Regions from separate parts of the Homo sapiens genome. Here regions 1, 2, 4, 5 and 6 are each linked to region 3. Evidence: fine-mapped expression QTL. A gene starts in region 3. Each other region holds a variant in brackets. All regions are shown on one strand. Distances are from middle to middle.

The links. PIP is the estimated chance that this variant, and not a neighbour inherited with it, causes the effect.
Region 1: its variant is the best candidate, but not a certain one, in a credible set for the expression of VPS53 in Th1/17 cells (Schmiedel 2018, PIP 0.57).
Region 2: its variant is the best candidate, but not a certain one, in a credible set for the expression of VPS53 in whole blood (TOPMed, PIP 0.60).
Region 4: its variant is the best candidate, but not a certain one, in a credible set for the expression of VPS53 in monocytes (Quach 2016, PIP 0.57).
Region 5: its variant is the best candidate, but not a certain one, in a credible set for the expression of VPS53 in lung (GTEx, PIP 0.53).
Region 6: its variant is the best candidate, but not a certain one, in a credible set for the expression of VPS53 in blood mononuclear cells (TOPMed, PIP 0.62).

The regions. Positions count from the first base shown.
Region 1 is chr17:542,013-546,012 of GRCh38, reverse strand. The region is part of intron 17 of VPS53 (VPS53 subunit of GARP complex); the gene reads left to right. All of the region lies in intron 2 of VPS53-AS1 (VPS53 antisense RNA 1), which reads right to left. Among named protein-coding and RNA genes, the nearest start is that of VPS53-AS1, 21 kb to the right of the region's middle. The variant CCCTT/T (reference allele first, on the strand shown) is at 2,014.
Region 2 is chr17:527,418-531,417 of GRCh38, reverse strand. All of the region lies in intron 19 of VPS53 (VPS53 subunit of GARP complex), which reads left to right. All of the region lies in intron 1 of VPS53-AS1 (VPS53 antisense RNA 1), which reads right to left. Among named protein-coding and RNA genes, the nearest start is that of VPS53-AS1, 6.7 kb to the right of the region's middle. The variant T/C (reference allele first, on the strand shown) is at 2,036.
Region 3 is chr17:713,239-717,238 of GRCh38, reverse strand. VPS53 (VPS53 subunit of GARP complex) reads left to right here and starts at 2,400. Exons shown (of 22, transcript NM_001128159.3): 1 at 2,400-2,616. The coding sequence starts at 2,530. RefSeq lists an enhancer at 1,859-1,928.
Region 4 is chr17:534,312-538,311 of GRCh38, reverse strand. VPS53 (VPS53 subunit of GARP complex) reads left to right here. Exons shown (of 22, transcript NM_001128159.3): 18 at 1,136-1,284. The region is part of intron 1 of VPS53-AS1 (VPS53 antisense RNA 1); the gene reads right to left. Among named protein-coding and RNA genes, the nearest start is that of VPS53-AS1, 14 kb to the right of the region's middle. The variant T/C (reference allele first, on the strand shown) is at 2,428.
Region 5 is chr17:495,103-499,277 of GRCh38, reverse strand. No RefSeq gene overlaps it. Among named protein-coding and RNA genes, the nearest start is that of VPS53-AS1, 26 kb to the left of the region's middle. The variant C/T (reference allele first, on the strand shown) is at 1,719.
Region 6 is chr17:624,780-628,779 of GRCh38, reverse strand. VPS53 (VPS53 subunit of GARP complex) reads left to right here. Exons shown (of 22, transcript NM_001128159.3): 9 at 549-692; 10 at 1,464-1,606. Among named protein-coding and RNA genes, the nearest start is that of VPS53, 88 kb to the left of the region's middle. The variant A/G (reference allele first, on the strand shown) is at 1,681.

The DNA of each region.
Region 1 (4,000 bases), 170 kb after region 3:
TCTGTATGTCCACCCTCAGGCCAGTACCACACTGTTTGGCTATAATAGCTTTGTAGTAATCTTTGAAATCAAGAAGTATGAGTCTTCCAACTTTGTTCTTTTTCAACACTGTTTTGGCTCTTCTAGGTCCCTTACAATGTCAGCATTTCTTGCCTCAGCCAGAGCATATTTATTTCTCTTTCAAGACACCATAGTACCTAGACTACCTTTCTGCTTTGTTATGTAATCATTTTTATGTCTTTGTCTTCCCTATTAAACTTTGAACAACTTGAGGGCTGTGTCTTATTCATTTTGGAAACCCGTGGCATGGCACAGTACTTGCTTAACTGTAGTATTCCCTGAATGACTTTGAAGGTAAAGAGGGAGCCAGGGAGTGGGAGAGAAAGAACCAAAGGACCACAAACACACTTTTGACCAAAGATTGGTAAACAAGTGAGACATAGATAACTCTACTGAGCAGAGGTAGCCAGGTGGAGCTGGTAGATGTAGAGTAGGAAACTTGGACAACTTTGTGAGAGACGGTGGGGTCATAGAATCCCTGAAACCTTTAGGTCCATAGCTGGTGCTGTTGAGGATGGAGTGATGCTCCTCAATGGCACCTGATAGCAGAAGGGCTTCTGACTTCAGCAGGTGGCATCCTGGAGCCGATTGAAGAGATGTGGGAATGAAGGAATACGAGCCCGCGGGGGTGTGGCCCTGAGTCCTGCTGCTAGACAAGGAGAGGGAAATGCAGAGCGGTAGTTTGCTAGATTCACATGCAGGTGCAGCCTTCTGCAGGCCAGGCCGAAGAAGGGGGAGGAAAATGTGATGAAAGTCAGGTGGTCCCTCTGAAACTCTGACTTTGAGATTCCAGTAGTGTTGCTGATGAGTTACAGCAAAATTAACTTCTAGACCACGTTTCCTTCCCATAGTGTTATTTTCTTTCTTTCATAAAAAAATTTCTTCACTCTGTTGCCCAGGCTTGGGTGCGGTGGCATAATCATAGCTTACTGCAGCCTTGACCTCCTGGGTTCCAGTGATCCTCTCACCCTAGCCTCCCAAATAGCTGGTACTACTGGCGCACACCACCACACCTGGCTAATTTTCTTGATTTTTAGTAGAGATGAGGTCTTGCTATGTTGCCCAGGCCAGTCTCAAACTCCTGAGCTCTAGTGATCCTCCCACCTCGGCCTCCCAAAATGCTGGAATTACAGGTGTGAGCCACTGTGCCTGGCCTCCATATTGCTTATTTTCTTAGATAACCTGTATGAGTTGATAATAAGTTACTATTTACTGAGCACTTACCAGGAATTGGAACCCAATTAATTTCATTCTAACAATAAATTCATCAGATGGCTATGCTATTTCCCCTTTTCACAGATAAAGAAGCTGAAACAGAGACATTAAATCACCTGCTCCAGATCTTTTAGCTACTTGGGAGGCTAAGGTGGGAAGGTCACTTGAGCCTGAGAGGCAGAGGTTGCAGTGAGCTGTGATCACGCCACCACAGTGCCTCTTTATGCAGGATTGTGGCATGCCATACAGAGAGAGTGAGTAAGTCTTTTTGGCAAATGTGGCAACTGAGGCAAAATCAGCTTAAGTAACCTGCCTAAAAGTGGAAGAGCCTCGGCCTCCTAAACTGCTGGGATTGCAAGCATGTTGCCATCGTGCCCGACCAGATGTTTTTGAAAAAAGGAATAAAATTTAAATCACCATAATTTCAATTAGTTGATACATTTCTGTCAGCATGTGCCCAGTCCTGGTGGGTCCACACGAGTGTTCATGCTGATATGATTATGAGTTCTTCAAGCATTCACCATCATCATGGTGTATATTCATCTCCAGCTTTTCTTGATCTGACACCAGGACTTTTCTACAGTGGAGAAGATGTGTTGAACAGCCAACCCACATATTCCAATCTGCGTTGAATATTTTTCCCTGAAAACTAATGAACTTTCCTTCTGGTATCTTCTTTCCTTCCTTCCTCCCTTCCTCCCTCCCTCCCTCCCTGCCTTCCTCACTCCCTCCCTCCCT[CCCTT/T]CCTCCCTCTCTCCGTTCCTCCCTTCCTCCCACTCTCCCTTCCTTCCTTCTTTCCTCTCTCCCTCCCTTCCCCTGTCCCCTCCCCTCCCTCCAGACTCCCTTCCCTCCCTCCAAACTCCCCTCCTTCCCTCCCTCCTTCCCTCCTTCCCTCCCTCCCTCCCTCCCTCCCTCCCTCCCTCCCTTCCTTCCTTCCTTCCTTCCTTCCTTCCTTCTCTTCTTCATATTATGCCCAAAGCCATATAACTTATAATAGTGAAGCTAGAAGTAAAACTAGTTCTCCTGATTCTGGAAAAAGTAGTTATTTGGAGTGTTTTGGTGGAAATACAAAGGATTCTATCTTTTAGATTTAAATCCTACAAATCCTTAGAAATGAGTATGTCTGGTTATGCCCCTGTACGTAGGATAGAGAGCCGTGGGCTCCCTAGCAGGGGCTGTTGGTCTCATGGTCCCCGCCTCTCTCCGTGCCTTTTCCTAGGGCTGCTCACATCACTCAGGTAAATAAATCCAAGTCTCTGTTCAGAAGCAAACACACCTAGTGTTTTGCCTATTAATGGTAGTTTTAGGAAAAAACAGAAACTGAATAAATTAAATTTTCTTACCGTCTGGCACATAATTTATATTAGGTTTCAGGATTGTGAACATGTACCCATTTAGGAGGCTGCGTTATAATCCCCCAAAGACACTTTGAAACAGGTAGAAGAGTTCTCAAGTCTGTTCTCATTTTCCTCAGTCATTAAAATGCAGATCTGTTTCAGAAGGACCATGGAAAGCCACAGCTAAGAAATCCTCAAGTTCACTTCTACGTTGAATCAAGACAAGTCTGTTCTCATTTTCATTTTCCTCAGTCATTAAAATGCACATCTGTTTCAGAAGGCCCACAGAAAGCCATGACTAAGAAACTGTCAAGTTCTACCTAGAATCAAGACACAGCTTTCTTTTTCATAAAAAAGATTTTTCCCATTATGACAAAACTAAATCACTTCCATTTTAGAAAAATGCAGATTTTTTTTTTTTTTTTTTGACAGAGTCTCGCTCTATCCGGCAGGCTGGAGTGCAGTGGCGTGATTTGTGCTTATGGCAACCTCCGCCTCCCAGGTTCAAGTGATTCTCCTGCCTCAGCCTCCCAAGTAGCTGGGATTGCAGGTGCCTGCCACCACACCCGGCTAATTTTGTATTTTTGGTAGAGACGGGGTTTCACAGTGTTGGCCAGGCTGGTCTCGAATTCCTGGCCTCAAGTGATCCACCTGCCTTGGCCTCCCAAACTGCTGGGATTACAGGCATGTTGCCATCGCGCCCGGTCAGATTTTTTTGAAAAAAAGAATAAAACTTAAATCACCATAATTTCAATTAATTGATACATATCTGAATTAATTGATAATTATCAGTTATCGAAATTTAGTGATTTTTAGTGATAGTGCAAGTATTCTTAAAATTATAACAGTAGCTAAAATTTACTGTGGAATTTATACGTGCTGCGAGACACTGTGTTAAGAGCATTCCATGCGTTATCTTTCAGTAATAGATTATAGATGTTACCATCATCCCAATTTTATAGACGAGAATACTGAGGCTCAGAGAAATTAGATGACTTGTCCCGGTCACCCCTTTAGAAGGTTGCACAGTGTCAGAAGTCAGACTGGCTGACTCAATTTCAGCATCTTAAGTACCATCTTAATGACCTTTCCTGCTAACTTAGCAGTTACGCTTCCTTAGGCAGGTCACTCGCTGTCCTCAATCCTGTTTCATCCTCATTTATTATTACTCACAAAGAGGAGTAATAATACCTCTTTCACTACATGATTCATTCATCAGGCAGCAAGGTCATGTGAAAATGTCAGGCACAGCACCTGTTACGTGGTAGGTGCTTGATAAACGTTCCTTCAGCGCCCAGTGCGTAGTAGGTGCTTGAGAAACGTTCCTTCAGTGCGTGGTAGGTGCTTGATAAACATTCCTTCAGCCCCTGGTGCGTGGTAGGTGCTTGAT
Region 2 (4,000 bases), 190 kb after region 3:
TTATTATTTTTTAACAAACCCACAGCCAACATCCTATGTTTACTTCCGTTTTGAGGTGTGGATGAGAAAACCATCTGCTGGAACTGGAGTTTTACTTAATCAGACCCCAGGCCAGTTCAGGTGGGCAGTAGGGGAGTGTGGATCTTGACAGGCCCAGAATGGGGAGGGTGTGGGTGGGAACTACAGGGCAACGTGGCCCCTGAACGATTCTCACATGAGTTGAGGTTTGGCTGGGCCTGTACTTGCCCTGATGTCTGGGCCTTGAAACTCAAGCAGCCATGTAGCTGCAGGCGTGTTCACTCAGGCAGCAGAACCATCAGAATCAAGTTAACTCAGCAGTGTTCATAGACTGAAACAGACGCTGCCTCCAGTAGTGGAGCAGCTGCCATCCAAACTTGAACAAAAGCTATGGCATTGGAAGCTAAGATTTAGCCCAACCTCAGCTGTGTCTGCCTTGCCACAAGGGTGCCAGATCCTAAATTAGGTTTTGCTTTAATACTTATGCTGAAAATGGGATGGGAGACATTTTTCTGCTCTTTGTTCTCTGAGTACTATATAAAGTGAGTTCTTTATCTTTGGGCCCCAGAGTCCTCGAGCAATTGCAAGGGCACGTGGAACTGACCCACACCAATATTGATCATGCTTCTTGCTAGTTTATGATCTTCAGATCATCCTGTTTTGCAGGGTCACTAATTATTCTTATGACTGCGTTCACCTATGAAAGCTTTTCTTTCCCTTGAGATTAAGGATAAGAGGAGAATGTCCGCTGTCACCATTTCTATCCCACGTTGTTGTTGAAGTCCTGGCTAGGACAACAAGGCAAAAAATACAATATTTTTAAAAGAAACAAAATATATACAGATTAGAAAGGAGGAAACTAAGCTGTCATTTTTCATGGAAAATATGATTATGAGTAATAAATCTAAAAGGATCTACAGATAAACTGTTAGAATATAAATTTAGCAGGCCGGGTGCAGTGGCTTACACCCTTAATCCCAACACTTTGGGAGGCCGAGGCGGGCGGATCACAAGGTCAAGAGTTAAAGACCAGCCTGACCAACACAGTGAAACCCCCGTCTCTACTAAAAATACAAAAATTAGCTGGGCAAGGTGTGGTGCGCCTGTAATCCCAGCTGCTCGAGAGGCTGAGGCAGGAGAATTGCTTGAACCTGGGAGAACTGCTTGAACCTGGGAGGTTGCAGTGAGCTGAGATTGCGCCACTGCACTCCAGCCTGAGTGATAGAGACTCCGTCTCAAAAAAAAAAAAAAAAAAAGAATATAAATTTAGCAAGGTTGCTGGCTATAAGGAAAGTGTTTTAAAATATATTTCTATATACCAGCAGCAAACAATTTAAAAATGAACATTTTTGAGTGAAATACTTTTTTTTTTTGCTGTATTGCCCAGGCTGGAGTGAGTACAGTGGCACAATCATAGCTCACTGCAGTCTCAATTCGTGGGCTCAAGCCATCCTCCTGCCTCAACTTCTCAAGTATCTGGGACTACAGGAATGTACTACCATGCCTGGCTGGCTCTTTTTTTTTTTTTTTGGTAGATATAGGGTCTGCCTCCCTGTGTCTCCCAGGCTGGTCTCAAACTCCACCCTCCTCAGCCTCCCAAAGTGGTGCGATTACAGGCGTGAGCCATGGCTCCCAGGCCTAAATGAAATCATTTACAATAACATCAGGAAACATTAAATACCTAGGAGTAAATTAAAAATGTACAAGTCTTCTACACAGAAAACTGTACAATATTAAGACACAGAATCCATAAAGACCTTTAAAATGACAGGATAGCTCATGTTCATTGATAAGAAAGACTCAAAAAGAAATACATATGGAGTCTTTCTGAGCCTGCTCTGGCTGAGGAGGCTGCCCAATAAAAAATAAATAACAATTTAAAAAGCGGCAAATTATTCCAAAATTAATCTATAGATAGAATTCAATCCTAATTACTGTATCAATTTATCTATAGATACAGTAGAATCCCAGCAGGGGTGTGTGTGTGTGTGTGTGTGTGTGAGTGTGTGTGTGTGAA[T/C]TGATATGCTGATTTTAAAAGTTAGATGAAAATACAGAAGACAACAGCCAAAATAATCTTAGAACAGAATTGGAGGAGTTAAAGCTCAGGATATCAAGACTTATTGCAGCAGTATTGTAATTAGAGCAGTGTGGCACTGGCCCCAGGGACAAAGAGGCCAACAGAACAGATCTGAGCTGAGGGATAGACCCACACATGTGTAGATACTTGATTTATGACCAAAGTGGCATCATTCAAAGAGAGTCTTTTCAGTAAATAGTGCTGGGTAATTGGATATCCATATCGGAAAAAAATCTTGACCTTTGCCACACACCATATATAAAAATCAATTCCAAAGAGGATTTGGTGAAATTAGAACACTCATACATTGCTGGTGGTAATGCAAAACGGTACAGCCATTTTGGAAAACAGTTTGGCATTTACATAGAGTTACCACAGGGCCCAGCAATTATACTCCTAGATATATACCCAAATGAATTGAAAAAGGCAGGGTGCATGGTTCACACCTGTAATCCCAGCACTTTGGGAGGCTGAGGCAGGCAGATCACCTGAGGTCAGGAGTTCGAGACCAGCCTGGCCAACATGGTGAAAACCCACTTCTACTAAAAATACAAAAATTAGCTGTACATGGTGGTGTGCACCTGTAACTCCAGCTACTCGGGAAGCTGAGGCAGGAGAATCACTTGAACCTGGGAGGCAGAGATTGCAGTGAGCCAAGATTGCGCCACTGTACCTTCAGGCTGGGTGACAGGGTGAGACTCTGTCTCAAAAAAAAAAAAAAAAAAAAGAATTGAAAAAAAAATGTGTTCACACAAAAGCTTGTACACAAATATTCATAGCAGCACCATTTATAATAGCCAGAAAGTAGAAACAACTCAAATGTCCATCAGCTGATGATAAACAAAATGTGGTCTATCCATACAAGGGAATATTACTCAGCCATTAAAAGGAATAAAGTACCCATTCATGCTACAACATGGAAGAGCCTTGAAACCATGTTAAGTGAAAGAAGCCAGACACAAAAAGCCACCTATTGTGTGACTCTGCTTCTGTGAAATGTCCAGAACAGGCAAATCCGTAAAACAGAAAGTGGATTAATGGTTGGCAAAGGCTGAGGGAGGGGGAGATGGGAATGGCTGCTAATGGGTAAGGGTTTCTTTCTGGGGTGATAATGTGTTCTGAAACCAGATAATGCTGACAGCTGTACAACCTTGTGAATAGACCTTAAAAACCACTGAATTGTACACTTCCAAAAGGTAAATTTTATGGTTTTTGAATTATATCTCCATTTTTAGAAAATTAATCCCAGATGGATTATGGCTCTAAAAAATAAGGCAATAAAGCTTCTGGAAGATTTAATATAAGACAATATGTTTATGACCTTGGGTTAGGCAAAGATCCCTTAAACAAAACATTAAAAGCACTAACCATAAAAGAAAAGATTGGTTATTTTGAGTACTTAAAAGACTTTGGCCAAGTGCGATGGCTTGTGCCTGTAATCCTAGCACTCTGGGAGGCTGTGGCAGGAAGACTGCTTGAGCTCAGCAGTTTGAGATCAGCCTGGGCAACACAGCGAGACCCCATCTCTACAAAACAATTTAAAAATTAGCCAAGTGTGGCACGTGCCTGTAGTCCTAGCCACTCGGGAAGCTGAGACAGGAGGATCAGTTGAGCCAAGGAGTTCAAGGTTGCAGTGAGCTATGATTGCACCACTGCATTCCAGCCCAGGTGACAGAGTAAGACCCTGTCTCTAATCATAATAATAATTTAAAAGAGTGATGATACCAAGTGTTGGTAAGGATGTGGAGCATCTGGAACTTTCATATGTGCTGGTAGAAATGGAAGTTAGCCCAGCCACATTGGAAAACTCCTAGGCAGTTAGCCAAACATATGCCTACCCCATGATCCAGCAGTTCTACTCTTGAGTAGCTTCCACCCTAGAGAAATGAGGACTTTATGACCACC
Region 3 (4,000 bases):
AATCAAGTCAGTGGTTGCCAGTGGATGGGGTGAGGCAAGAGGGAATTTGGGGGAATGAAATTGTCCTATAACTAGATTGTGGTAGTAGTTACATGGTTATATACATTTATTTATTTTGTTTTATTATTGTTTTCTTATTATTTGTTTGTTTGTTTTGAGATGGAGTCTTGCTCTGTCACCCAGGCTGGAGTGCAATGGTGCAATCTTGGCTCACTGCAACCTCCACCTCTCGGGTTCAAGTGATTCTGTGCACCACCACGGCCAGCTACGTTTTGTATTTTTAGTAGATAGAGACGGGTTTTACCATGTTGGCCAGGCTGGTCTCGAACCCCTGACCTCAAGTGATCTGGCAGCCTCGGCCTCCCCACGTGCTGGGATTATAGGCGTGAGTCACCATGCCCAGTCGTTTATACACATTTATCAAAACTCACTGCATCATAAATTGCAAGAGTAAATTTTACTGTATGTAAATATCTTAATTTTTTAAAGGAAAAAAAAAGTCCAAAATAAGTAGCTATAATTACCTTTTCCTTTTAGAAAAAGGCATTCATATTTTCTGAGCATGAGAGAACTACAGGCTCATTGTAGACATTTGGGAAAATGTACAAAGGATGTACATTCATCACGTGCAGAAAAGTAATATTTCCTTGCTGTGAGCTTTATTGGCACAGAATACACACAAAGCTGGGACCATGCTATGCATTTTTTAAATGAAATTATACATTTTGCTTTCTGAAATATATTGTGCATATTTTTCATGTCATTAATTTTCAAAATCATGATTTTATGAATCAATAATATTCTATGTTTACTTAAGAGACAGAGTCTCCCTTTGTGGCCCAGGCTGGAGTGCAGTGGCGCAAAGGAATCATTCCTCACTGCAGCCTCAAACTCCTGGGCTCAAGCGATCCTCAGTGGTGGGATGAGATCTAGACCCCTGATATTCAATCTCAGAAAGTCAATAATTCCCTGCCTCAGCCTCCTGAGTAGCTGGGGCTGCAGGCCTGTGCCACTGCACCAGGTTCAATGTATATTTTATTTTGTCTTTTTTTTCTTTTTTTAATGTATATTTTTTAGCATTCCTTTGTTGTTAGAAATTACATTGTTTATATAATTATTATTTGTCAATTAAAAATAAAAGAAAAAATCATACTGCTCCTATTTTTTACTTTGAGCAACTCTGATAACAACAACAAAAAAAAGTTCAGTGGGGCCAACGCGTTTCCCTCCTGGAGTTTCCCGGTTCACCTGGTGGAGCGGGTCCTCCTTGGGCTGCAATTCCCTCCTTCTTTTCAGTGTCTGCAGGAAAGGTGGTTTCACAGGGTGATCGGTGATCTGGCTTATTTGTTCCTTTGTGGGGGTAAGGGCTGGGCACCTCACTATTTCCTGTATTACCAGCTTGAATTTACATCGCGCTGTTAATGTTTAATCCTCTCCACATCGACGCGGGGTAGTAATTTGTTCCAAGTCACACAACTTATCAATGGTGGACTATTCAGGACTTAGATCCCGGATATTCAACCTCAGTAAACGTCTCCCCAGCTCCAGGGCGCTGCGTCATCTGGCTTTAAAAAAACGTTTCTGGCCGGGCGCAGTAGCTCACGCCTGTCATCCCAGCACTTTGGGAGGCCGAGGCGGGCGGATCACGAGGTCAAGAGTTCGAGACCAGCCTGGCCAACATGGTGAAACCTCGTCTCCACTAAAAATACAAAAATTAGCTGGGCGTGGTGGCGGGCGCCTGTAATCCCAGCTACTCGGGAGGCTGAGACAGGAGAATCGCTTGAACCCAGCAGGCGGGGTTGCAGTGAGCCGAGATCGCGCCGTTGCACTCCAGCCTGGGCAACAAGTAAGACTCCGTCTCAAAAAAAAAAAAAAAAAAAAAAAAGACGTTTCTCCCCATAAGGAGGCTGCAGTCACCTCGAAAAGCTTCTGCGCAGAGCCCGGCGCACGGGGAATTTCTATCGAGTGGGCACTGTCCCGTCCTACGAATGTCCTTGGCGACATCGCCACTCGCCAGCTGGGATCACGTCGCCCCCGTGGCCGGGGACACCCGCTGCCACTGACCGAGGGGGCCCCGGGAGCTGAGAGGTCGCCGCTGCGCTGCCCGCGGAGGCTGTGGGCTGCGGTTGGCGACGCCGCAGGGCTGACTTTCATCCGGGCGTCCTGCTGGAGGCCAGACCCTACCCCAACCTCGGGGTCCTCAGTGCGGGGCGCGCCTTGGGGAGGGAAGAGGCCCCGCCCATCCTAAGGACGCGCTGAGGCCACGCGGGGCCGCCGGGATACTGCGTTGCCCGGGAGACACCTGACGTGACAGGAACGCCGCCAGTCTCAGTCCGCCGTGATCCCACAGTTCCCCGGTCCCGGAAGTGCCCTGGCCTGCCGGAAGTGCCGGAGCGGCTGACAGAGCGGCTGACGGAGCCGGGCTCACCAGGTCGCTGCCGCGAGGGAGTTGCTGTGCTGGGGCCTGGGTGGCGGCTGGAGGCCTGAGTTGGGCTCGCGGCGGGGGTCGGCAGGGGGCCGGGTGGCGGAATGATGGAGGAGGAGGAACTGGAGTTCGTGGAGGAGCTGGAAGCCGTGCTGCAGCTCACGCCCGAGGTGCAGCTGGCCATCGAGCAGGTAAGCGTTCCGCCCCTCAGGAGGGGAAACGGGAGTGCGGGAGGGGAGACGGCAGCTCCGGGCGCTGGGGAGGCCGCGGCGGGTGGACGGAGGGCCGGGGGCTCGCGGCAGAAGGGAAAGTGGAGGTGGGGAGGTGGTGCGGGTGAGAAGCGGTTTCTGAATCAGAAGGAAAGGAAAGAGAACCCTTTCTAGGCTTTGATTGTCTTTGGCGAGGGCTGGGGGTTCTGGTGGTTTTGGGGAAAGGAATTGTGCGCTTAGAGAGGACGACGCTAGGAGAATGCAGGCCTTGGGTGCCATCCTCAGATTCTGGGGACTGTGGGGGCTTCATGCATTTACCAGACTCGTGCCAACGCCCCGGTTTTGCAAGCTGGCACCTCGTGAGTGGCTTGGAACTGGGGGAAGGGAATGACTTTAATTTCTGAAGCGGACGGCAGAGAAGAGAGAAAGTGTTGAAAAATGACATCGTTACCATTCTTAAAAGGTTGAGAATTCCTACCGTTGAATAGTTTGGGTGAGGTTGGAGAATACTCCCAAGGGGCCTCTTTTCCCTTCAGGAACTTTTTTTTTTTTTTTTTTTTGAGACGGATTCTCGCTCTGTCGCCCGGGCTGGAGTGCAACGGCACGATCTCGGCTCACTGCGACCTCCGCCTCCCGAGTTCAAGCGATTCTCCTGTCTCAGCCTCCTGAGTAGCTGTGATTACAGGCGCACGCCACCACACCCGGCTAATTTTTTTTTTTTTTTGGGGTAAAGACGGGGGTTTCACCGTTTTGGCCAGGATGGTCTCGAACTCCTGAGCTCAAGTAACCCGCCCGCCTTGGCCTCCCAAAGTGCTGGGATTACAGGCGTGAGCCACCACGCGCGGCCCTGCCTGCAGGAACTCTTGCCTTTGCAAGTTTATTGAGTTTTTAAGGCTAATGATATTAGAAATAGTGATTTTTTTCTTTTCTTTTTTTCTTTTTTTTTGTTTTCTGAGACGGAGTCTCGCTCTTTCGCCCAGGTTGGAGTGTAGGGGTGCCATCTCGGCTCACTGCAACCTCCGCTTCCAGGTTCAAGTGATTCTCCTGCCTCAGCCTCCTGAGTAGCTGGGACTACAGGCAACCGCTACCATGCCTAGCTAATTTTTGTATTTTTAGTAGAGACCGGGTTTCACCATGTTGGCCAGGCTGGTCTTGAACTCCTGACCTCAGGCTATCCGCCCGCCTCGGCCTCCCAAAGTGCTGGGATTACAGGTGTGAGCCACTGCACCCGGTCAGAAATAGTGATTTCTAATACTGCAGGGTATTGCTCCTGATAAACGGAGAAAATCTCCCTTAAAGGAATTGTCATGAAGTTATATGATTTAAGAAAGGGATTTATGATTGAGGAAATGGACAATTCCATTAT
Region 4 (4,000 bases), 180 kb after region 3:
AGGCTGACTCAGCAGAACCCTCCAGACCATTCCCACTCTTCGGGATTAGAATGCCCTTCCCTGCCAGCCCGGGGCAGGCTAGGAGCTGGTGCTGCACCCATCTCCTGCATGCACCCTTGGGGGATGGCACACTGCAGCATTGCCTCCTTCTGTTCCCAGGACTCAATGTTGCCAAGTGCCACGTAGTCCAAGAATCCCGCCAGTTTGCTATAGGTGTCTTCCAGAGCCTGTCGTTAGGGCTCAGGTTGAAGCAGGTCTGTCACTTTTGTTCACAGCTTGTTCAGGGACCACCTCGGTGCTCTCAGCAATGTTCTCTCCCCTGCGCCTGGCTCCTGGCCTGTTCCCCACGTCTCCATCTTACCCTCTGGTCCACCCTAGTGTTTGCCAGAGATTCTCTTTCCCTTCCCCTTATTGAAATCCTGACATAATCCCAAAGGTTTTAGGAGTGTAAGATTCTACACGCATACCTCTTCAAGTGTTTTATTATGGAAATTTTTGAATATATTCAAAAGTAGAGGAAACAGTGTGGTCAGCCTCTATGTACCTGTCACTCAGCTTCACGATCTTATTTCATCTGCACCTCTTCCCGGTAACTTCATATTATTTTGAAGCAACATCCCCACGTGTCATATCATTTCTAGTTTTCTGTGTTAAAGAATCCCAAACTCCTCCCAGTTGACTGGAGAGAAAGGTGTCTGTGAATTCCCCTCCAGGTTGCATGTCACTTAGTCCAGCCACCTCTCTCATCTCCCAGGCTGCCGGTCAGCTTGGGAGTCGGTGTCCCTCCCCGTTCTGCTGCAGTCCCCTGCTGTGGGGCACTCGGCAGGAGAACAGGATCCTTTACGAGTGGGTAGCTTAGCTGAGAAGGGAAGGCTGTTTCAGGCAGGTCGGGGACAAGGCAGGAAAAGGAAAGGGTCTGGGTCACACCTCACTGTCGGGTCCGCTGGGCACACTCGCATTTGTCCTGAGTATCAGTCCCTACAGAACGAATAAGAAACTCCCCAGGACAAAAGGGCCTGATTCCTGGGATACCAAAGCTGTGACCTGACTTCCACTCCAGCCCCTCCCTTCCCCAGTAACAGGCGACACCGTTCTCCTGCGAGGGATTCAACGCCTCATCCTTTCTCCCTTTCAGATGCAGTGGCAGAACGTGGAGCACGTTGGTGACCAGAGCCCCTACGTCACCTCTGTCATTCTGCACATCAAGCAGAACGTCCCCATCATCCGTGACAACCTGGCTTCCACACGCAAGTACTTCACTCAGTTCTGCGTTAAATTTGCAAAGTAAGTCCTGGGGCGTGCTCATCTCTGGGTTCTTGTTCTTTTTAATAGACTTTATGTTTTAGAACAGTTTCAGGTTCACAGCCAAATTAAGCAGCAAGCACAGAGATTTCCCGTGTACCTGACCCCCCCAACATGCACAGTCTTCCCATTACCGACACCTCCCCACACACAAAGTGGCACATTCGTTACAGTGGATGAACCTGCATCAACACGTCATTATCACCCGGACTCTGACGTCGCGCTGGACATTCCCTCGGTTTGGACAAATGTACAGTGACGTGTGGCCGCCATTTCAGTGTCATACTCAACTGGGTTGTTTTTAAAACCATACTTCCCACCAGCATCCTCACAATTTGAGTGTCCCCACCATCCAGCTGCGGTTTGTTCTGGTGCCTGCAGTACTGATTTTAATTTGTACACAAAAGAAGCATAATCATAAAACTAAATCTGCTACTTAAAGTCATAGGCAACAGTAACAGCAGTACAATTGCCAGCCACGTCAAGGCAAACAAAAATGAATGGGGCCTACTGTTGTTTTGAACTGTGCAGGCATAAGCTCTCCTTGCCCAGGATTGGATAATTAAAATTCTTTTTCAGGGATTTCATATATGCATTTTGTTTCTCTGACTGGCTTAATAAATGCCTCTTAAGGGTAGGAGCCATCGGTTCTGTTTCTTTTGAGCCTTCTTGTCCTCCCTCCCCCTGGTATTTTTTACCATGGCTGCTAGAATTTATCTATTCATACTTGGACACACTCTTGGTCCGAGGAAGGCACTAGAAATTGGGATGCACAAGCCAGGGAGCTCCCTGGCCAAGGCAGGTGAGTGCACCCTGAGCCGTGTGTCTTCCTGCTGTGTCTTGTGTGTGGCCATTTCTGCCCTGAGTTTTGAAGCGAGGAAATAGTTTAGTTCTTTGCCGATCACCATCTGGCTTAGCACCATTTTCCGTGATACCAGGTGGTGGTGAGGGTCAGTGTCTCCTCTGACCAGTTATCAAGCAAGCATTTTGGCAGACTTCTCAGGGAAGGGCTTCAGGAGGGTCAGCCCAGGCCAAGCTACTGTATTTGGGTTGTTCCCATCCAGGCCCCAGCTGGTGATTCAGGACTCCAAGTTTCTGTCTTCCCCCAATCTCTCCCAGTTTCCC[T/C]GTACCTCACAAATGAACCCCTCAGGACTAACAATTATGGAGCGGCTTGTGGTGTCAGCTTTACTTTCTAGTTTGTCAAGAAAGGATAGAGTGGACTCTCCAGGGAGGCATTAATGTTTGCAGATGGCAGATGGACCAGGAGGTGAAATTCCCTCACTCTCTGGGTGCTCATTAGTGTGTTAGAAATGTTGCTGATAAATCACATCGTGACGCTCCCCATAACTGCTGGTAGAAGCAGTGTCTCTGTAAAAATTTACTGTGACTCAAAATCTCCAGGGTGGCTGCTCCGGGGTCTCATTGAGCTTACGTTAAAGTGAAGGAGGAGTCCGTTGACTTAGCCAGTCCCAGCGTCTCCCAGCTCAGTCATATGATTGAGCTTACATTAAAGTGAAGGAGGAGTCTGTTGACTTAGCCAGTCCCGGCGTCTCCCTGCTCAGTCATATGATTGAGCTTACATTAAAGCGAAGGAGGAGTCCGTTGACTTAGCCAGTCCCGGCGTCTCCCAGCTCAGTCATATGATTGAGCTTACGTTAAAGTGAAGGAGGAGTCGGTTGACTTAGCCAGTCCCAGCATCTCCCAGCATCAGCCTCACATTCTCTCAGAGCCCTTGAGTTTCATTGCTAAGCCCAGGTTGAGTGCGCTGGGAATTGGATGCCCCCCCTCACATCTGTAATCATTCAGCCTGGGATCTAGGAAGTGGTTTTCTGTTTTCATCCATGGTGCCTTCTCATCCTGCTAAAATCCCGCTTAACAGAGGTGGGCTTGTGAGGAGACCCTTCCCTGGTCAAGGGCAGCAGCCACCACCGCCCTGATGGCCCAGAGAAGCCCTTGGCAGTTACCCAGCACATTGCTTGGTTTTTTCCCCACAGGACGTGTGTCAGGTCCTCATACTCCCCCCATCGCCACCTGTAGACTAGTATAGAGAGCCAGTTCAGGGGCACAGCCAAAGGTTTTTTTTTTTTTTTTTGATACAGGGTCCCACTCTGTTACCCAGGCTGGAGTGCAGTGGTGCAACCACAGCTCACTGCAGCCCCCATCTCCTGGGCTTAGGTGATTCTCCCACCTCAGCCTCCTGAATAGCTGGGATTACAGGCGCTCGCCACCCGGCCTAGCTCATTTTTCTATTTTTTGTAGAGATGAGATTTTGCCATGTTGCCCAGGCTGGTCTCAAACTCCTGGGCTCAAGCAGTCCACCTGCCTGGGCCTCTCAGAGTGCTGGGATTATAGGCATGAGCTGCCATGCCCAGTCCGGAGCATGTTCTAATGTGAAGCAACTTAGGTTACAAAGCGCTGTGTGCACAGCTGCCATTGGTCATGAGTTCAGTTTCATGTTGCTTGTCTGGCTCTGGTTTCCAGCACTGAGGAATTCCTTCCAAATAGCCCCTTGTTTACTCTCCTTCCTGATCACAAGCCACCTCCAGATCCGATCTCCGGACTCCAGTTTCCTCTCCCTCAGCTTCCTTTCTACCCCACCCCTGCAAAACCATAGATGTTTCCTTTTACCTCGTTTGCTGTCTTAAGCAATAGCAGCCTTTCCTGTTGAGACATCAAAATCCACAGCCTGGTTGAAACT
Region 5 (4,175 bases), 220 kb after region 3:
AGGCGGATCACCCGAGGTCAGGAGTTCAAGACCAGCCCAGCCAACATGGCGAAAGCCTGTCTCTACTAAAAATACAAAAATCAGCTGGTGTAGTGGTGCATGCCTGTAGTCCCAGCTACTTGGGAGGCTGAGGCAGGAGAATGGCTTGAACCTGGGAGGCAGAGGTTACAGTGAGCTGAGATCATGCCACTGCACTCCAGCCTGGGTGACAGAGAAAGACTCTGTCTCAAAATTAAATTAAATTAAATTGCTGAGAATGGCCAGGCGCGGTGGCTCACGCCTGTAATCCCAGAACTTTGGGAGGCTGAAGCGAGTGGATCACTTGAGGTCAGGAGTGTGAGACCAGCCTGGCCGACATGGTGAAACCATGTCTCTACTAAAAATACAAAAATTAGCTGGGCGTGGTGGCAGGTGCCTGTAGTCCCAGTGACTCTGGAGGCTGAGGTAGTAGAATCCCTTGGACCTGGGAGGCGGAGGTTGCAGTGAGCTGAGATTGCACTCCTGCACTCCAGCCTGGACCACAGAGACTCTGTCTCAAAGAAAAAAAGCAGAGAGTGGCACTCAATGGCCGAGCAGAACAAGTTACACGTCAGTAGAGGCCAGGGAGGTGGGAAGATCAGCATGGGCCAGGTGCTCACCACCAGCCTCCCAGCCTTGCTGCCAGGATGCCAGATAAGCCTCCCAGGTGCCACCACCTTGGCCAAGCTCCCCTCCCTCCTCTGCCTTGCCTTTCTCTCCTCTCCTCTCCTTTTCCCTCCATCCCTCCCTCCCTCCCTTTCTCTCTCTTTCTTTCTCTCTCTCTTTCTTTCAACAGGCTCTCACTGTGTCACCTAGGCTGGAGTGCAGTGGTGCGATCTTGGCTCACTGCAGCCTCTGCCTCCCAGGTTCCAGCGATCCTCCCACCTCAGCCTCCCAAGCAGCTGGGACTACAGGCGCCCAGCACCACACCAGGCTAGTTTTTGTATTTTTTGTAGAGATGGTGTTTCACCGTGTTGCCCAGACTGATCTCTCCTGAGCTCAAGCAATCCTCCCGCCTCAGCCTCCTGAGTAGCTGGGACTACAGGCATGCGCCACCACACCCGGCTATTTTTTGTATTTTTTGTACAGATGGGGTTTCACCCTGTTGGCCAGGATGGTCTCGAACTCCTGACCTCAGGTGATCCACCCGCCTCGGCCTCCCAAAGCGCTGGGATTACAGGCGTGAGCCGCCGTGCCCAACCCTCAAAGGGGTGTTTTTAGAAATTGATATTTGTGTCTTGGTCTAGCCCTGCAGGGTTCATGTTTGAATTCTACAGAGAAGGCAGAAATAAAGGAAGCCACGGGGCTTCAGGACCACCCCACCCACGCAACCAGGAGGGGTGAGAGGCGCTTTGCAGCAGAAGACCTACAGGCTAATGCCCGAGAGCCACAGGGGCCTCTGCCACCACCAGCACCGGCAGCAGTGCCCAGGGCTTTGGGCGGTGCCTGGCAAGGGGCAAGGGGCAAAGGGCAAGGGGACCGTACCCATGTGCCACCACTGTCACCTCTCTCAAGAGGCTGCAGGGGCTGATGGTACTTGTAGCAGGGGCACCCAATCGGAGGACCATGGTGGTCCACCGTCACACACCTTAGCAGAACCAGAGGCCAGGACAGTGAGGGCTAGAAAAAGAAAAGAAAATTAAGAGCAGGCATTCCATAAGTGTGACCAGGTTTATTTATGAGCTTATGAAAGACATCTT[C/T]GGGGATTCCCAGACGTACTTGTCAGTGGTTGGAGGTGGGGGTGGAAGTCCTACAAGGGAGCGGGGAGAGGGGCAACAACACTGCCCCAGTTGGCCCCAGGCTGATGTGGCCTGGGAAGAGATAAGACCCTCCCTCACCACAAGTTCTTCCCCCTCTGGCTCATTCTCAGTAAAGACCCAAAACTGAAACACATTTCTTCAAAGCATGTAAATGTCTTCAGCAAGTATCAGGCTGCAAACCACAGCTGCCTCCAGCCTGCATGTATTCTGCTCTGAACTGGGGATAGGAGAGGGGTACGTGAAGCCACTGTGGCTCCCGGGAAGGACACAGCTAAGTCACCTGTCATTGTGTGGAGCAAACAGGCTGCCTCCAAGGGCCCTCGCTCTCCGTCCCTTCCCGGGCAGCCCCCACAGACCCGAATCCTCAAGGGGCCCTGGAGTACCATGGAGACCTTTGAGCCTGCCTTTGGAGTGTGGCCACACAGACCAGACGTTTGATCCCCAGGGATAATGACAGCACGCCCTTCTAGCAAGTCAGCCCAGGAGCCGAGGGTCTTAACTTCAACTGCTCACCCAAGGGCTACTTTTCTGGTCTGCAAGTCCTCGTCCAGCACGAATACGCAGAACGGAGCCCGAAGTGCAAGTGTATTGATGCAGCTCCGAGGAGGCCATGTGCCCCAGCTCTTTGCCAAATCCCACCTGGATTTATTTTGCAGAAGACAAGGAAGGTCCTTTTCTGTGTAACTAGGGAGCATTTGGGAGAATCAGCTCTTAGCTTACAAAGAGGCCTCCAGAGTGGAGCCGTGTTTGACTGGCATCAGGGGACTCCCCACACTGGGCACACTGGACTGATGGATGCCAGCTGCACTTCCTGTCTGGGTTTGTGTCATCATTTGGACCTGGCCAGACCCCACGACTCCAGCCAAACGGGTGGTCTCCCAACTGAGAGATCAGAAAAAAAGCCAACGGGGCACAGTGGCTCACACCTATAATCCCAGCACTTCAGGAGGCCAAGGCAGGTAGATCACCTGAGGTCAGGAGTTTGAGATCAGCTTGGCTGATTTCAACATGGTGAAACCCTGTCTGTACTAAAAATACAAAAATTAGCTGGGTGTGCTGGTAGGCTTCTGTAATCCCAGCTACTCGGGAGGCTGAGGCAGGAGAATCACTTGAACCCAGGAGGTGGAGGTTGCAGTGAGCTTAGATCGTGCCACTGCACTCCAGCCTGGGCAACGAGAGCAAAACACTGTCTCAAAACAAAAAACAAAAAAACCCAAACAAACAAAAAACAAAACAAAACTAAGAAAGCCAGCCTGTTCCTTCAGACCTGATAGCCCTGAAAGCGAGAACTTTGGTAGCCCTTTGCCTGTATCTGTTTCAGGCCATCTTTGTGAGTCTCGGGGGCTCAGGGTTATGAATCGAGCTCACCAACATGTGTGGGTACACTCATATGGGCTGTGTTCTGTCAGGTTTGTGTTTTTAATTCAATTCGCTTCTTTACTGAATATGACAGGTCCCTTTCAATGTTCTTTGAAAACTATCACCTTAATCTAAACTAAGGAACAAAATAACTTTTTGTTAAAAACATTTTTAGGACAGGGTCTCGTTCTACCACCCAGTAGTGCGATGGCGTGATCATAGCTCATTGCAGCCTTGACGTGGGCTCAAGTGATTCTCCCACCTCACCCTCCTGAGTATCTGAGACTACAGGTACCTGCCACCCACCTCACCCTCATGAGAATCTGAGCTCACCCTCCTGAGAATCTCAGACTACAGGTACAGGCGGCCACCATGCCAGGCTAATTTTAACAAAAATTTTGTAGTTGGCTGGGTGTGGTGGCTCACACCTGTAATCCCGGCACTTTGGGAGGCCGAGGAGGGAGGATGGCTTGAGCCCAGGAGTTCAAGAGCAGCCTGGGCAAGATGGTAAGACCCTGTCTCTACAAAAATAGAAATAAATGTTAAAAAAATGATAAATTATGAGAACAGAGCAATAAAAATATAAACATAAATTATAAAAGTAGAGCTTTACGGCTGGATGTGGGGGTGCACTCCAGTGGTCCCAGCAACTCAGGAGGCAGAAGTGGGAGGGTTGCTAGAGCCCAGGAGTTCAAGGCTGCAATGAGCTATGATCGTGCCACTGCACTCCAGCCTGTGTGACAGAGGGAGACCCTGTCTCTATTAAAAAACAAAACAAAACAACAACAAAAAAAGTGTAGAGATGAGGACTCACTATGTTGCCCAGGCTGGTCTCAAACTCCTGGGATCAAGCAATCCCCACCCCTCGGCTTCCTGAAGTGCTGAGATGACAGGTGTGAGCCACCATGCCCAGCTGTAAAGTTCTGTTTTTCAAAAAGCATTTTGGTTGACAGGTGCATATGAAGGAAAGAGAAGACCTGGTTCAACAGCAGGCAAATCCACACATCATGAGCCACAGAACAGCCCAAGACCTGGGGG
Region 6 (4,000 bases), 88 kb after region 3:
TATTGTGAAACACATGTCGTGGCTTGGAACCTGGTTTTATGTGTTAAGGGAGACCACACTATTTGGCAAAAACATAGCACTTTAAGAACAGGAATCCCAGAGGTTGGAGTCAGGGAAGAGTGGCACATGTGGAGTGAGGCTGGTGGCATTCCAACTCTTAGGAGAGAGGCTGGTGGCATTCCCACTCTTAGGCCTCTTCAGCAGCATCTTGCGACATCAGAGACCAGTGGCATTCTGACTTTTAGATCTCTTTCAGTTTTGGTTTGCAGAAAGTCAAATTTCCCGTGATCATTACTGCCCATTTCCCAAAATATCTCATTGCAGATTCACAGGGTAGTTTTTCTGTCGCTTGCTGTAAAACGAGTGTAAGGATTCCATCCTCGAGGAGCAGCAGGTAACTGACAGATCCAGCCACAGCAGAAAGAATGAGTGTGAAGGAGCAGGAGTAAGACTGACAATGCGTAGAGATAACAAGTAGTGGCTGTGAGAAGCCATGAGGTTTAAAGGTTGTTTCTGGCTTTTCACCTGGTACATGTTTGTTTTACTAGAGACCAGGAGGACCCAGCAATGTTCTACGAGATGCATGTCTGGTTGCTAATATTCTAGATCCCAGGATCAAACAGGAAATCATCAAAAAGTTTATTAAACAGCATCTGTCAGAGTATCTGGTACTTTTTCAAGAAAACCAAGATGTGAGTATTGACCAAATAAGATCAGATGTAACATTTGAATTTTATTGAAACATGAGTGCTGTCAAGCCTACTAATTTAGACCTCGTATTACATGACTGTCTGACAGTGTTGGTTGTTGAGCTGTGAGTCCTAGGGGCTGAGTTTATAGTTCTTAACCATTTTGAGGTCACTGACCCTTTGGAGAAATTCAGAAACATGCACCTGTGCATAAAATTCTGCATATAGTTTCTGGAAATGTATAGACCCCTGAAGGCCAATCATGGACCCCAGGTTAAAAACCTCTGGATTTTGTGTGTGTGTGTGTGTGTGTGTGAGACGGAGTTTCGCTCTTGTTGCCCAGGCTGGAACGCAGTGGTGCGATCTCAGTTTACTGCAACCTTGCCTCCCGGGTTCAAGCAATTCTCCTGCCTCCCCCTCCCAAGTAGCTGGGATTACAGGCGCCTGTCACCACACCAGGCTAATTTTTGTATTTTTTAGTAGGGACGGGGTTTCTCCATGTTGGTCAGGCTGGTCTCGAACTGACCTCAGGTGATCTGCTGACCTCGGCCTCCCAAAGTGCTGGGATTATAGGCATGAGCCACTGCGCCCAGCCAAAAACCTCTGAATTTTTAAGTAAAAAATCAAGTTAAAAAGGTAGCCTAGATTCTTTAAAACCATGAGAAATACAGAGGTTGGTTCCCTTTTGCTTGGCTCTGTGTTTTTGCTTGTTTCCTTGAACTGCCATTTCTACTTCTAACCACTGGGGTGGCTTTTGATCTCCACCTTCACCAGGTTGCCTGGCTGGACAAAATCGACAGACGCTATGCCTGGATAAAACGCCAGCTTGTGGACTATGAGGAGAAATACGGCCGCATGTTTCCACGTGAGTGGTGCATGGCTGAGAGGATTGCGGTGGAATTTTGCCATGTGACAAGGTAGATGCCAGTTCTCTACTGGTTCTGTGGTTAATCAAATTTTCACCATCGGTTCCCCAGTCTCTAATGGTTCC[A/G]TGTTGTCCTGTGGATTTGATGCCACTTCCAGACCCCACCAGATGACTAATATCATCCTCGTACCCCACAGTGGCCCCACCAGCTGCTCCCTCTGCCCCCATCTTTGCTCTGGGACTTTCCGTGGTGTAGTTCTTGCCTCAAGCCATCTCTACCTTCTCCACCAACTCAAGGCTTATACACCAGATTGACCTACAGTGATTCCTCTACCCCACGTTTTCCCCTAGTCGGTATCGCATGTATCAGTGTGCTGTGTATATATCCCATCATCATTTTTATTTTCTGACTTGCTAGATAGATAGTTCCATAGAGACAGGGTAGTATCTACCTTAATGATATAGCAGACACAGAGGAAACATTTGTTGAATGAATTTCCCACTCCCAATACAGTGTGTATAGCCTCTGGATAGTTCAGAGCTTTTATTTCAAGACAGAATCACTCTGTCACCCAGGCTGGAGTGCTGCAGTGATACAATCCCAGCTCACTGCCACCTCCATTTACTGCATTCAAGTGATTCTCATGCCTCAGTCTCCCAGGTAGCAAGGATTACAGGTGTGTGTAACCACACCTGGCTCATTTTTGTATTTTTAGTAGAGATGGGGTTTCACCACGTTGGCCAGGCTGGTCTTGAAGTCCCGACCTCAGGTGATCTGCCCGCCCATTTTAGCCTCCCGAAGTGCCGGGATTACAGGCATGAGCCACTGCACCTGGCCTGCGTCTGAGCTTTCCAAGCATTTTAAAGACCGTCTTTTGTTCATCCTCTCTACGTTATCCATGAGTGTAGCCCAAGGACAGATAGTCTCTTTATATTAAAAAAACCCAAAGCCCAGGAAGGTTAAATCAGTATATCTATGACAAAGCTAAAGCCAGAGTCAGACTTTTTTTTTTTTTTGAGACGGGGTCTCACTTTGTCACCCAGACTGGAGTGCAGTGGTGTGATCATGGCTCACAGCAGCCTTGACCTCCTAGGCTCAAGTGATTCTCCCACCTCAGCCTCCTGAGTAGCTGAGATGACAGGTGTGTGCCACCACACCGGCTAATTTTTGTGTGTGTATTTTTTGTAGAGACAAGAGTTTTGCTGTGTTGTTCGGGCTGGTCTTGAACTCCTTTTATTCTTTATTTGCGGCTAGACTACAACAGTGTTGGTAACTGGTTCTTATTAGTTATATATTTCCTCCCAGTAGTACACAGTTAGATCTAATGCTGGGTGAAAAAGAGAAAAAAAAGCCCATATCTAGCATAACTCAACCACCTTTTCCCATAATCCATGGCCGTCTTTTTTATTAAAATCATGGAAAGTAAAGTCAAATTGCATGTTTCAAACACATTGTGGGGCAAAAGTGTTTTAAGGGATATTGGCTTTTCTTAAAATAGATTTTACCTTTTAGAGCAGTTTTAGGTTCACAGCAGAATTGAGCAGAAGACACAGAGAGTTCCCAGGTGCTCCCGGCCCCACGTGCATAGTCTTCCCCATGGTCGGCACCTTCCGCCAGAGCGATGCATTTATCACAGCTCATGAAACTACACGGACACATCATCATTACCCAGAGTGATGGTCCATAGTTCATGGTAGTGTTCACGCTTGGTGTTCACATACATTCTGTGTGGCTTTTTTTTTTTTTTTTAAGAGATGGGGGTCTCGCAGTGTTGCCCAGGCTGGAGTACAATGGCTATTCACAGGCATGGTAATAGCGTACCCCAGCCTTGAACTCCCGGGCTCAGGCAGCCCTCCTGCTTCAGCCACCCAAGTAGCTGCAACTACAGGTGCACTGAGCTCCATTCTGTGTGGCTGTTATTCTAAGAAACACATTGGGCCAGGCTTGGTGGTTTATGCCTATAATCCTAGCATTTCAGGAGGCCAAGGCAGGTGGATCATATGAGCCTAGGAGTTTGAGACAAGCCTGGGCAACATGGCAAAACCCCATCTCTACAAAAAATGCAAAAATTAGCTGGTCATGGTGGCAAGCACCTGTAATCCCAGCTACTAGAGAGGCTGAGGTGGGAGGATTGCTTGAGCCCAGGTCAAGGTTGCAGTAGGCCATTATCATGCCATTGCACTCCAGCCCTGGGTGACAGAGTGAGACCCTGTCTCAAAAAAAAAAAAAGAAGAGAGAGAAAGACAGAGAAGGAAGGAAGTGAGGAAGGGAGGGAGGGAGGGAGGGAGGGCGAGTGGAAGGGAAAAAGAAAGAAAGAGGAAGAAAAAAAAAGAAACACATTGACTCCTGTAGATTTAGAGAACCTTTTAGCATTGGTTTAAGATGAGTTGAGATTGTCACCTTCTAAATCCCAATTAACAAAATAAAGAGTGAATTCCTTGAGAA